Regions from separate parts of the Homo sapiens genome. Here region 2 is linked to region 1. Evidence: fine-mapped QTL for protein levels in blood plasma. A gene starts in region 1. The other region holds a variant in brackets. All regions are shown on one strand. Distances are from middle to middle.

The links. PIP is the posterior inclusion probability: the model's chance that the variant is causal. Protein levels are from the aptamer-based SomaScan assay of Sun 2018.
Region 2: its variant is fine-mapped to the plasma level of the KREMEN1 protein (Sun 2018, PIP 0.95).

Annotation. Positions count from the first base shown.
Region 1 is chr22:29,072,264-29,077,263 of GRCh38, reverse strand. KREMEN1 (kringle containing transmembrane protein 1) reads right to left here and starts at 4,229. Exons shown (of 9, transcript NM_001039570.3): 1 at 4,037-4,229. The coding sequence starts at 4,133. It also overlaps a transcript of C22orf31 not described here. RefSeq lists a silencer at 4,211-4,540.
Region 2 is chr22:29,086,371-29,091,370 of GRCh38, reverse strand. The region is part of intron 1 of KREMEN1 (kringle containing transmembrane protein 1); the gene reads right to left. Among named protein-coding and RNA genes, the nearest start is that of KREMEN1, 16 kb to the right of the region's middle. The variant A/GTGTGTA (reference allele first, on the strand shown) is at 3,065.

The DNA.
Region 1 (5,000 bases):
GCCCTACAGAGTTGAATAATTGCAACACAGATAGTATAAGGCCCATGAATCTCATATTATTTACTGTCTTCCTCTACAAAAAATGCTTGCCCACACCTGACCTAGATTATCAGTTGACATTTCCAGACTCAAAAATTCTAAACTAAGGATGGTATATTCCCCATCACCAAAAATCCCTAATCTGTATATTGTGAAGCTATTTAAAGCAATATATTTTATCTTACTCATTTATTGCTTTTGGTCTAACTATGCTAAACCATGAGTTTATCAATAATATCTGTATTGATATACAAGAAGTGCATCAACTTTCTGTTTATGAGTAGTGAGCCTAAAAGGAATGCTTTCTTGCTTTAAGATTTATAAAGGGACTCATTGCCTATCTCAAATACTTTTTATTTATTTGTTTATTTTGAAACAGAGTTTTGCTCTTATTGCCCAGGCTGGAGTGCAATGGTGTGATCTCAACTCACCGCTACCTCTGCCTCCTGGGTTCCAGCGATTCTCCTGCCTTAGCCTCCCAAGTAGCTGGGATTACAGGCACGTGCCACCATGCCCGGCTAATTTTTTGTATTTTTAGTAGAGATGGGGTTTCACCATGTTGGCCAGGCTGGCCTTGAACTCCTGACCTCAGGTGATCCGTCTGCCTTGACCTCCCAAAATGCTGGGATTACAGGTGTGAGCCACCGCGCCCGGCCTCAAAGATTTAAATGGTTTGTCTAGGGACTAAAGTATATTTTCACAAAAATATCAGAGGTCTTTGATAGCAGGTCGAAATGGTGTTTCTTAAAATACTCAGAGTATGCAAGTAACTGGTATGCACCCTTCACTCCTTCACTGCTTCAGCCCCCATGTCGCTTACAGGTAATTCTATTAGCATTAATGAAGTCCCCAAGAGAACCAAGAATTGGTAGACAGTATGAAGCTCTAGCTGTTAACTGAACTCATAGGTTTTAGGGCAAACACACTACTGGCTAGTGGGGCAAATTCCAGATGAGGAGGTAGAGGAGAATGAGCATCAGTCTATAAACTTATAAAAGGTATTCACAGCAAACATAACCTGAGTGGAGAAGCTCTGTTGATGTGCACCTAATAGACCCTAAAGGTAGTAAAATACTCAAGTGAGTAGACCATAAATTCCATAAATTCCAGATGGGACCTACTACAGAGAACCTCTCGACCACATGGCCCTGGTTGCACTCCTCCTTGAAGGAAAGTCTAGATTCCATTACCTTCTACTTTCCTTCTTATGAGTTGTGAAGGAAGGAAGAGAATCTTAGAGGAAGAATGAAAAGAAGGGAGATCATTTGGGGTTGGCTACACATTGTAATTAGAAGTAGGATTGATGGGGAATGAGCTAACTGTTTTTATAAAGTCAGCATTCAAAAATGCAAACCACCAGTAATTTAAATATTACAAAATTGTGCAGAATATAAATATTGAAATAATTTTTTCCATCCACAAAATTTTAGAGAAAATTACAGTATCAAAAAATATAAAATGGCAAGTTTGGCATATCCTCAGAGTAAAGTGTGTGTGTGTATGTGTGTGTGTGTATGTGTGTGTGTTTTATTGGGAAGGATTTTAAAAGCTAGTGAGTAGGATCTAGACAGGATGTGTTGGTGAAGACCATGGGGTATCTCCCTAAAATTGCTTCTGCAACTAGACAGGAAAAGTCAAAAAAGCAAAGCACTGAGTTATCAGGACGGTAAGGCACCAAGCTGGCAAGGCTCAGTGAGTTGGGAACTTGGGCCACTTATCACAAATTATTTCACAACGATTATTTGCCCCTACCCCAGACTCCTAAATAAAAGTACACCAAAATTTGGGGTGCAAACTTGATAAGAGATGCTGCATTTGACCTTAAAAAAGCAAAGATATCTGGGAAGAGACTAGCTTCCAACGAGCTTAAGGAGAGTTGGCTCACTTGATGCAAATCAGAGCTGCTGCTCTGCCCTTTCCAGAAGGGGAACCAGTCTATTTCCACCCATACCTCTCTCTTTGTAGGGGACATTAAACCCTGACCACACAGATAGCAAAGTGGAGCTAAGGGGTTACCAGGTTACAGTCATGTTGACATATCCTGGCTCTCGGAATGTCCCTCACTCCTCACAACAGTAGAAGTGATCATACTGTAGAAGTCCCATAAAAGACGGTGATCACTCAGAAACCACTTACTGAGCCTCAGGTTTACAACACTTGGAGACCCCAGTTCTACTAATTTAAAGCCAAGCTTAGCCTTTTACAGAAATGAATCAGACCGAAAGCTCTTAGCATTCCCAGGGTAAATGAGGTGTCTAGCACTCGATGAACTGTGAGGCCCTATAAAAGTATTATTAAAATATGTTTATTGACTCCCTCCTATATGCGGGTATGTTACCTACAGTATATCATTTAATCTTCACAACACTCTGCAAAGAAGTTATCCTGTCTTTACAGATGAGGAAACTGAGGCTCAGAGAGCTGAAGGCATGGCCCAAAGTCACCCAGTAAGTGACAACACCAAGTCCTAGCTTTTTCGCTAATCCAAGCCAATGAGTAAACAAAGCAACTCTGAGTTTTCTTACACCAGCAAAATCCCATCCTTTCCAACATCAGTCTGTGACTTTGGGTGGAGAACCCAGAGGCGGGTTTTCCTACTCCTGCAGACTGGTAATAAACTCTTCCCATCCCTTTCACAAATGGCCTATGCTCAACACCCAAACAGCCTGCAGAGAAATGCAACGCCCTCTTGCCTTCTCTTCCACTTAGAAAGGATTCGGCTACAAGGTTGCGTGTGGAAGTTAAGCAAAAGCCAAGCTTCATCCTGGTCCAGGGCCTCACCTCGGGAAGACCTGGCCTTGGCCTTGGCCTGGGTAGTGAGTGACCTGTCTAAGGTGTGGGCTGACCCAAAACACGGAGCTCGGCGTTGCACCCTCAGGAAGAGCACCCTAAACTCAGTTGGGGAGAAGTTTCCCATCACTGCTTCCTTTTTTCTCTCCCCCTTCTGCGCCATCACCTGAGTCATAGGGAAGTTCAAAGCGGCCCAGCGGAGAGAGAGGGCACGTCCCGTCCGTCTGGGTACAAGGTCGTCCCAGGACCCTAACCTGCCTCTAGCAGGGCGAACAAGTCCATCCCGTTCCTCGCGAGGCAGAAGTTATAATGTCCGCCAAGCGGGTGCAGCCGAGGACTCGGGAAAAGGGGCTGAGCGCCGGCTCCTCCCGCCTCCGCTCTGCTCTGCGCGGGGAGGCGCCGGGTTCCACCGGTGTAGGCGGGAGGAGAGGACTGGGGGACGCGGGGGCGTCGCAGTGAGGCTCAGGGAGGGGACCTTGGCCCAGGGGAGGGATGTCGCTGGAGGTCTCGGAGAGGGGCGTATAGCCTCTTGTAGCGGGGGAGTCGTCCCGGTGCAAGGTGCGTCGATGAAGGACTTGGGGCGGGATCCCAGGAGGTACTGGGGAGCAGGGGTCGTCCCGGCCCGGGAGGGGTCGCTGGGGACTTGGGGACGGGATCCCAGGAGGTACCGGGGAGCAGGGGGCCTCCTGGCCCGTGGGGAGTCGCTGGGGATTTTGGGACGGGATCCTAGGAGGTACCGGGGAGCAGAGGACGTCCCGGCCCGGGGGAAGTCGCTGGGGACTTGGGACGGGATCCCAGGAGGTACCGGGGAGAGGGGGCGTCCCGGCCTGGTTGGGGTCGCTGAGGGACTCGGGCAGCGGGTCCCAGATCCCGAGACAGAGAAGATGTCCCAGCCCGGGGGGCGTCGCAGAGGGTCTTGGAAGACTCAAGGCGGAGAGGGCCTCCTGGGCTGAGGGGCGTCGCTGAGGAGCACCGGGTCCTGCAGCCGGGGGACAGTACCGGGCCCGGGGGCGTCGATGACGGGCCTGGGGGTAGCCCGGGTCCCAGGAAGGGACCATCCCGGCCTGAGGGGCGTCGCCTAGGGGCGAGGGGAAGGGGCCCGGAAGGTCCTGAAGCGGGAGGGAGGGGGCTCTCAGGCCGGCCGGCCCTTGTCGCCCCTCGAGTGGGCTCCGCTCAGGGCGGGCGGCGGGGGGTCGCTCACACTCACCGGGTCCGGGGCCGAGGCCGGGGCTAGGCGCGGGCCGGGCCGCCAGCGTGAGCGCCGCGGCGGAGAGCAGGGCGAGGCGGGCGGCTGGCGGCGCCATGGGCCGTCAGTGCGGGGCCCCGGGGCGCGGCCCGGGGTAAAGGGGGCAGCGCGGGGAGCCGGGGGCGGCCATGGGAGCAGGACGCGGGGCCCGAGTGTAGCCCCGCCCCGGCCGCCCGGCCGCCCCGCCCCGGCCCGCCCAGCTCAGCGCCGCCACCGCCCCTGCAGCCTGGGGCCCGCCCGGATCCGCGGAGAGGCCCGGGGGGCGGAGCCCACTGCGCACGCACGCCCCGCCCCGGCCGCGCGCTGCTCCTGCCACTCACGCATCAGGCCCCGCCCATCTCTCGCCTCACCTGGGCCGGCCCAGCAGGGCCCTCTGTTTGTCCCATCCAAGGGTAGGATCAGCAGGTGAGGGGCGGGGCCTCGGCCCGGCCTCCAAGTCACCAAGCGGTTTGGCCGGGCTGAAATAGGCCGGGCTCCCAGTGACCCCTGCTCCACCCTCACTTAGGTCGTGACCCACGCGCGAGCTCAGCTACAGCGGTAATAATTACAACAGCAGTTTGCAAACTGTTTTCCCTTGCTTAGCTCATCGTAATGGTTAAAAAAAGAATGCTTTGGAGAGTTCACATCCCACTTGGTCACATGTAACACCTTGGACAGGTTTAAAGGAAAAATAGCTCTTACCTCAATTTCCTCATCTGTTAAATGGAGGTGATAATAGCTGCTACTCCTCAGAGCGCTTGCACTAAATAAGAATGCCTACAGCCGAGTGCGGTGGCTAACAACTCCTGTGATCCCAGCACTTTGGGAGGCCGAGACGGAAGAATCGCTTGAGCCCAGGATTCTGAGACCAACCTGGGCAACACAGCGAGACCCCATCTCTACAAGAAAAAAATAAATAACTCAGTGGTCCCAGCTACTCAGGAGA
Region 2 (5,000 bases), 14 kb before region 1:
ACATAGCAAACTGCAGGACAGGTGGGGTTCCTGAGACTCGGATGACTTGGTTTGTAATACAAAAGAATGTAGCAGAATGTGTAATAAAAAGAATCCATGGCCGGGCACAGTGGCTCAAGCCTGTAATCCCAGCACTTTGGGAGGCCGAGGCGAGCGGATCACCTGAGGTCAGGAGTTCGAGACCAGCCTGGCCAACATGGAGAAACGCCGTCTCTACTAAAAATACAAAATTAGCCGGGGGTGGTAGTGCATGCCTGTAATCCCAGCTACTTGGGAAGCTGAGGCAGGAGAATCGCTTGAACCCAGGAGGCGGAGGTTGTGGTGAGCCGAGATCGTGCCTTTGCACTCCAGCTGGGGCAACAAGAGTGAAACTCTGTCTCAATAAATAAATAAATAAAATGCACACACATGACAGTCCTCATGGAGACGAGATGGCATCTGAGAGTGGAAATGGGAAAGTGCAGGCTTCTTTGCTTGGGTCTGTTCCTCTCAGACCCAATCTTGTTCTCAGTTACACTGGTGAAACTGAGGCAGTGTATCAGATTCTGTGATTGTTTTTTGACCAGACTTGCCCAGTACATATCAATTACAGAGAAAAGCAAGGGAAACCAACTCGAATGCTCTGCATTTAAAGTCATCTAGCGCATCTTGATTTCATCAGAGTACTAGGGTGTATGTTAGGTAAATAGGACCCTACCTCCCTTATTTTTTTTCTTCAAAACAGTGATTTTATTTCCTTTGAATATATACCTAGAACTGAGATTGCTAGAATATGGTCATTCTATTTTGAATCATTTGAGGAACCTCCACACTGTTTTCTATCGTGATCATGTTAAGTTTTTTAACTTTTATTTTGGGTTCAGGGGTACATGTGAAGGTTTGTTACACAGGTAAACTCATGTCACAGGGGTGTGTTGTACAGATTATTTCATCACCCAGGTACCCAACAGTTATCTTCCTGCTGATCTCCCTCCTCCCACCCTCCACCCTCAAGTAGACCCCAGTGTCTGCTGTTTCCTTCTTTGTGTTCATAAGGTCTATCATGTAGCTCCCAGCCTCCCTTATTTTCTACTGCTACGAAACTGATGTAAGCTTTGGCTAAATAAGCAAGGAGCGGCTTAAACCAGTAAGAAACACACACACACAGAGCCAACTGTTTATTTACGTATTCAGTGAAAAGAGAATGAGTGAAAGCAAGAGATCTAATGTCTAGGAAATTATTCATTAATTAGTTCAGCAAATATTTATTCAATACTATGTGCCTGGCACTGTTCACAGCACTGGGGCTACAGAGATGAACAAATATCCTGTATTCATGGAGCTTACATGTTTATAATAAACTGATCAAAATGAACATCAGATAGTGATAAGTGCTATTAGAAGGAATGAAGCAGAGTAAAGGGAGTACGATGGAATGGTGAGGGTTCTCTCCTAGGGTGGGTCAGGGAAAGCCTAGTGAGCAGAGATGTGGATGAAGGGAGGAAGCAAACCCAGTGAACGAGGCGGCAGGTGTGTAACTGGCAGAGGGTCCAGCAAATGCAAAGCCCCTGCAAATGGCAATATGCTTGGCAGATTTGGGGAGCTACAAAGCTGCTCCTCTAATCTGACTGGAGCAGGAGAATGAGCAGGGAAGGGCAGGCAAGGTCAGGACGTGTAAGGTCTTGAGGGTTAGATAAATGAGATTTTGGCTTTTGTTCTAAGTGTAAGGGGAAGCCACTGGAGGGTTTAGAGCAGGGGAATGACATAATGTGACTTATCTTTATTTATTCATTTTTGTGACTTATCTTTTAATAGAATTGTCTAGCTGTTGGGTGGAGGAAAAACAACTGACAGGCAGGACCTAGGCAGGGAGAAAAGTAGGTAGTTACTGTAGAAGGATGGGCGAGAAACAAGGATGGCCTGGACTAGGCTGGCAGCTGTGGGGTGGTGAGAAGTGGACCGATTCCAGATATATTTTGAAGGTAGTGGCAAAAGTATTTGCTGGGGGTTTGGATACAGGGTCTGAGAGACAGATGGGTCACACAGCACACCAAAGGGGCCTGAGCAACCAGCTGAGTAGTGATACCATTTACTGTAATAGGGAGGGCTCAGGAAGGTCAGAGTGTTTTGGGGTAGAATTAAGAGTTTGGTTTTGGATAGGTTAAACTTGACATCTTCAGAAAACTGAGTGGAGATGTAGAGTACGCAAATGGCTACATGAGTCTGGAGTTGAGGAAAAAGGCTGAGGCTAAAGCTAGAAATATGGTCCCCAGCACTTACGTGTAGAGAGAATAGGATACTGTGTGTATCAGCCCCAACATCTGGGGCTGAGCCCTGGGGCCCTCCAACATACCACACTTGGCAATGATGACTGAGAAAGTACAGCCTGTGGGGTAGGAGAAAAGCTAGGAAAACTTTTTCAGTAATTTTTTTTTCTTTATCACACAACTTCTAGCAACAATGTGGTAGAGTATGGAAAGCGTATGTTAGGGGCTCTAGAGCCAGACCTCAGCTTTTCAGTTTACAAGCTACAAGCACTTGCCTAACCTCCTTGAGCCTCAGTTTCTTGACTTGCAAAATGAGAGATTTGATTATCTACAGCTCAGGGCAGTTGGAAGAATTGGAACGTGTGCAAGTAAAGTACTCGGTACATAGTAGGTATTCAAAAATTATTATTGTATAATCATAAAGGTATAAAAATAATCAAACTTTATATAAGCTTAGAAATATTATAAGCATCATGATAACTGAGGTTATTCTGAGGCCAGGTGCGGTGGCCCACGCCTGTAATCCCAGCACTTTGGGAGGCTGAGATGGGCAGATCACTTGATATCAAGAGTTCGAGACCAGCCTGGGCAACATGGCGAAACCCCATCTCTACCAAAAATACAAAAAATTAGCCAAGCGTGGTGGTGTGTGCTTGTGGTCACAGCTACTCAGGAGACTGAGGTAGGCGGATCGCTTGAGCCTGGGAGGCAGAGGTTGCAGTGAGCCAAGATCGCACCAAGGCACTATACCCTGGGTGACAGAGCGGGAACCCCATCTCAAAATATGTGTGTGCGTGTGTGTGTGTGTGTGTGTGTGT[A/GTGTGTA]TGCACGCGTGCACGCGTGCGCACGTTATTCTGGTCCATAAAATAATTAGCTATAAAAGGTAAGATAACATGAGTATGTGGGCACATCATCCTACTACAATTCTGTTTAAAGTTAGGCTACCATCAAGATGGAACATATATATGGTTTGAATCCTGTGTTGAATCCTAGCGTTCAATGGATAAGCGGTAAGGGAAAAAGATACAGAGGAGCAAATAGGTTTTTCTTAATCAAAATTTCAGCTATAAATATGATGAAACACATCTTCATTTATTTATGCTACTAAAACCACATAATTCAATATTTATACTAATCATAAGTGAGGAAAACACAAGTTAATAGAGTCCCAGGAAAAATTCTGCCAGGTTGTATAATACCTGCTCTGCAGTTTTAAAGTTCATGTTTAAACTATAACAAGGTATTCTTTTAAAATAATTAAAACTTGGCTGGGCGTGGTGGCTCATGCCTGTAATCCCAGCACTTTGGGAGGCCAAGGTGTGCGGATCACCTGAGGTCGGGAGTTTGAGACCAGCCTGATCAATATGGAGAAACCCCATCTCTACTAAAAATACAAAATTAGCCGAGCATGTTGGTGCATTCCTGTAATCCCAGCTACTTGGGAGGTTGAGGCAGGAGAATCACTTAAACCCGGGAGGCGGAGGTTGCAGTGAGCCAAGATCGCACCATTGCACTCTGGCCTGGGCAACAAAGAGTAAAATTCCGTCAAAAAAAAAAAAACTTGACATGTATAAGATAGTGGTAGGAAAACAGTAGTTAATCTAAAAGACATCCTAATCTTTGGTAAGATTTAATAAAGCTGAAGAATATGCTCTCTATAAAACTCTATAACTAGGTAATTCTTAATTTGTCCAAAAACACACTATTGAGAAATACAACATTTTTCTCTATATTCTTGGTTTTCTGGTAGAATTACTAGTTAGATCTCTACATATGATGCTTATGAGAGTCATTGTTTTTTTTTAATCCACCAAAGTTAAGTCTCTGTTCTCTGTGGGACCGCTTAGCACTTCTACTGATCTTATGTTGGAAGAATCTGTCTGGTTTTAGCCTGGCTTGAAATCAACATGAATCAATTCACATTAAATTCAATTACAGCATCTTAAAGCAAGACAGCAGAGAACATATTCCAATGAGAATATCCTTCGTTCTTTAAAAAAGTCTATGAAACTTGGTAGGTAGATAGATTATAGAAATCTAAGGTTTAGGTATAAATGCTTTTTTTAATATTTAGAGGGTATGGCTCATGCCTGTAATCCCAGAACTTTGGGAGGCTAAGACAAGAGGATCACTTGAGCCCAGGAGTTCAAGACCAGCCTGGGCAACATAGGGAGACCTCCATCTCTACAAAATTAAAATTAAAATTAAAATTAAAAATTTGCTGGGTGTGGTGGTGTGTGCTTGTAATCCTAGTTATTTGGGAGGCTGAGGTGGAGCCCAGGAAGTCAAAGCTGCAGTGAGCCATGGTCATGCCACTGCACTCCAGCCTGGGCGATGGAGTGAGACCCTATCTCAAAAAAGATATATATAGAGAGAGGGCAACATGACAGTGCCGTCAAATATTCACATAGCACACCTATCGCCCTGTTGGGTTTCAAATACGGACTGGTGCCCGGTGGGAACTTGCACCACTTTGAAGCCCCTGGGCAGACTACCCTTTGCCCTCAGACACTCAAAAGCACTATGGGAAAGCTGATTTCAGTTATGTGAAACCCTGTAGTAAAGGGGCATGTGGCCCTGGGAAGGCAGGGGTTCCCAGCCTTTTCCAACCCAACACCACTGAGGCTGTGATAGGACACACTCCCATCTTCAAAAATGGCTCTCCAAGAGCAGTGATTTCTACAATTACATAGAGGAATGTCATCAGATCTAGAATAGAGAGAGGACAGTTTAGGGAAAAAACAACAACCCTGTACACAC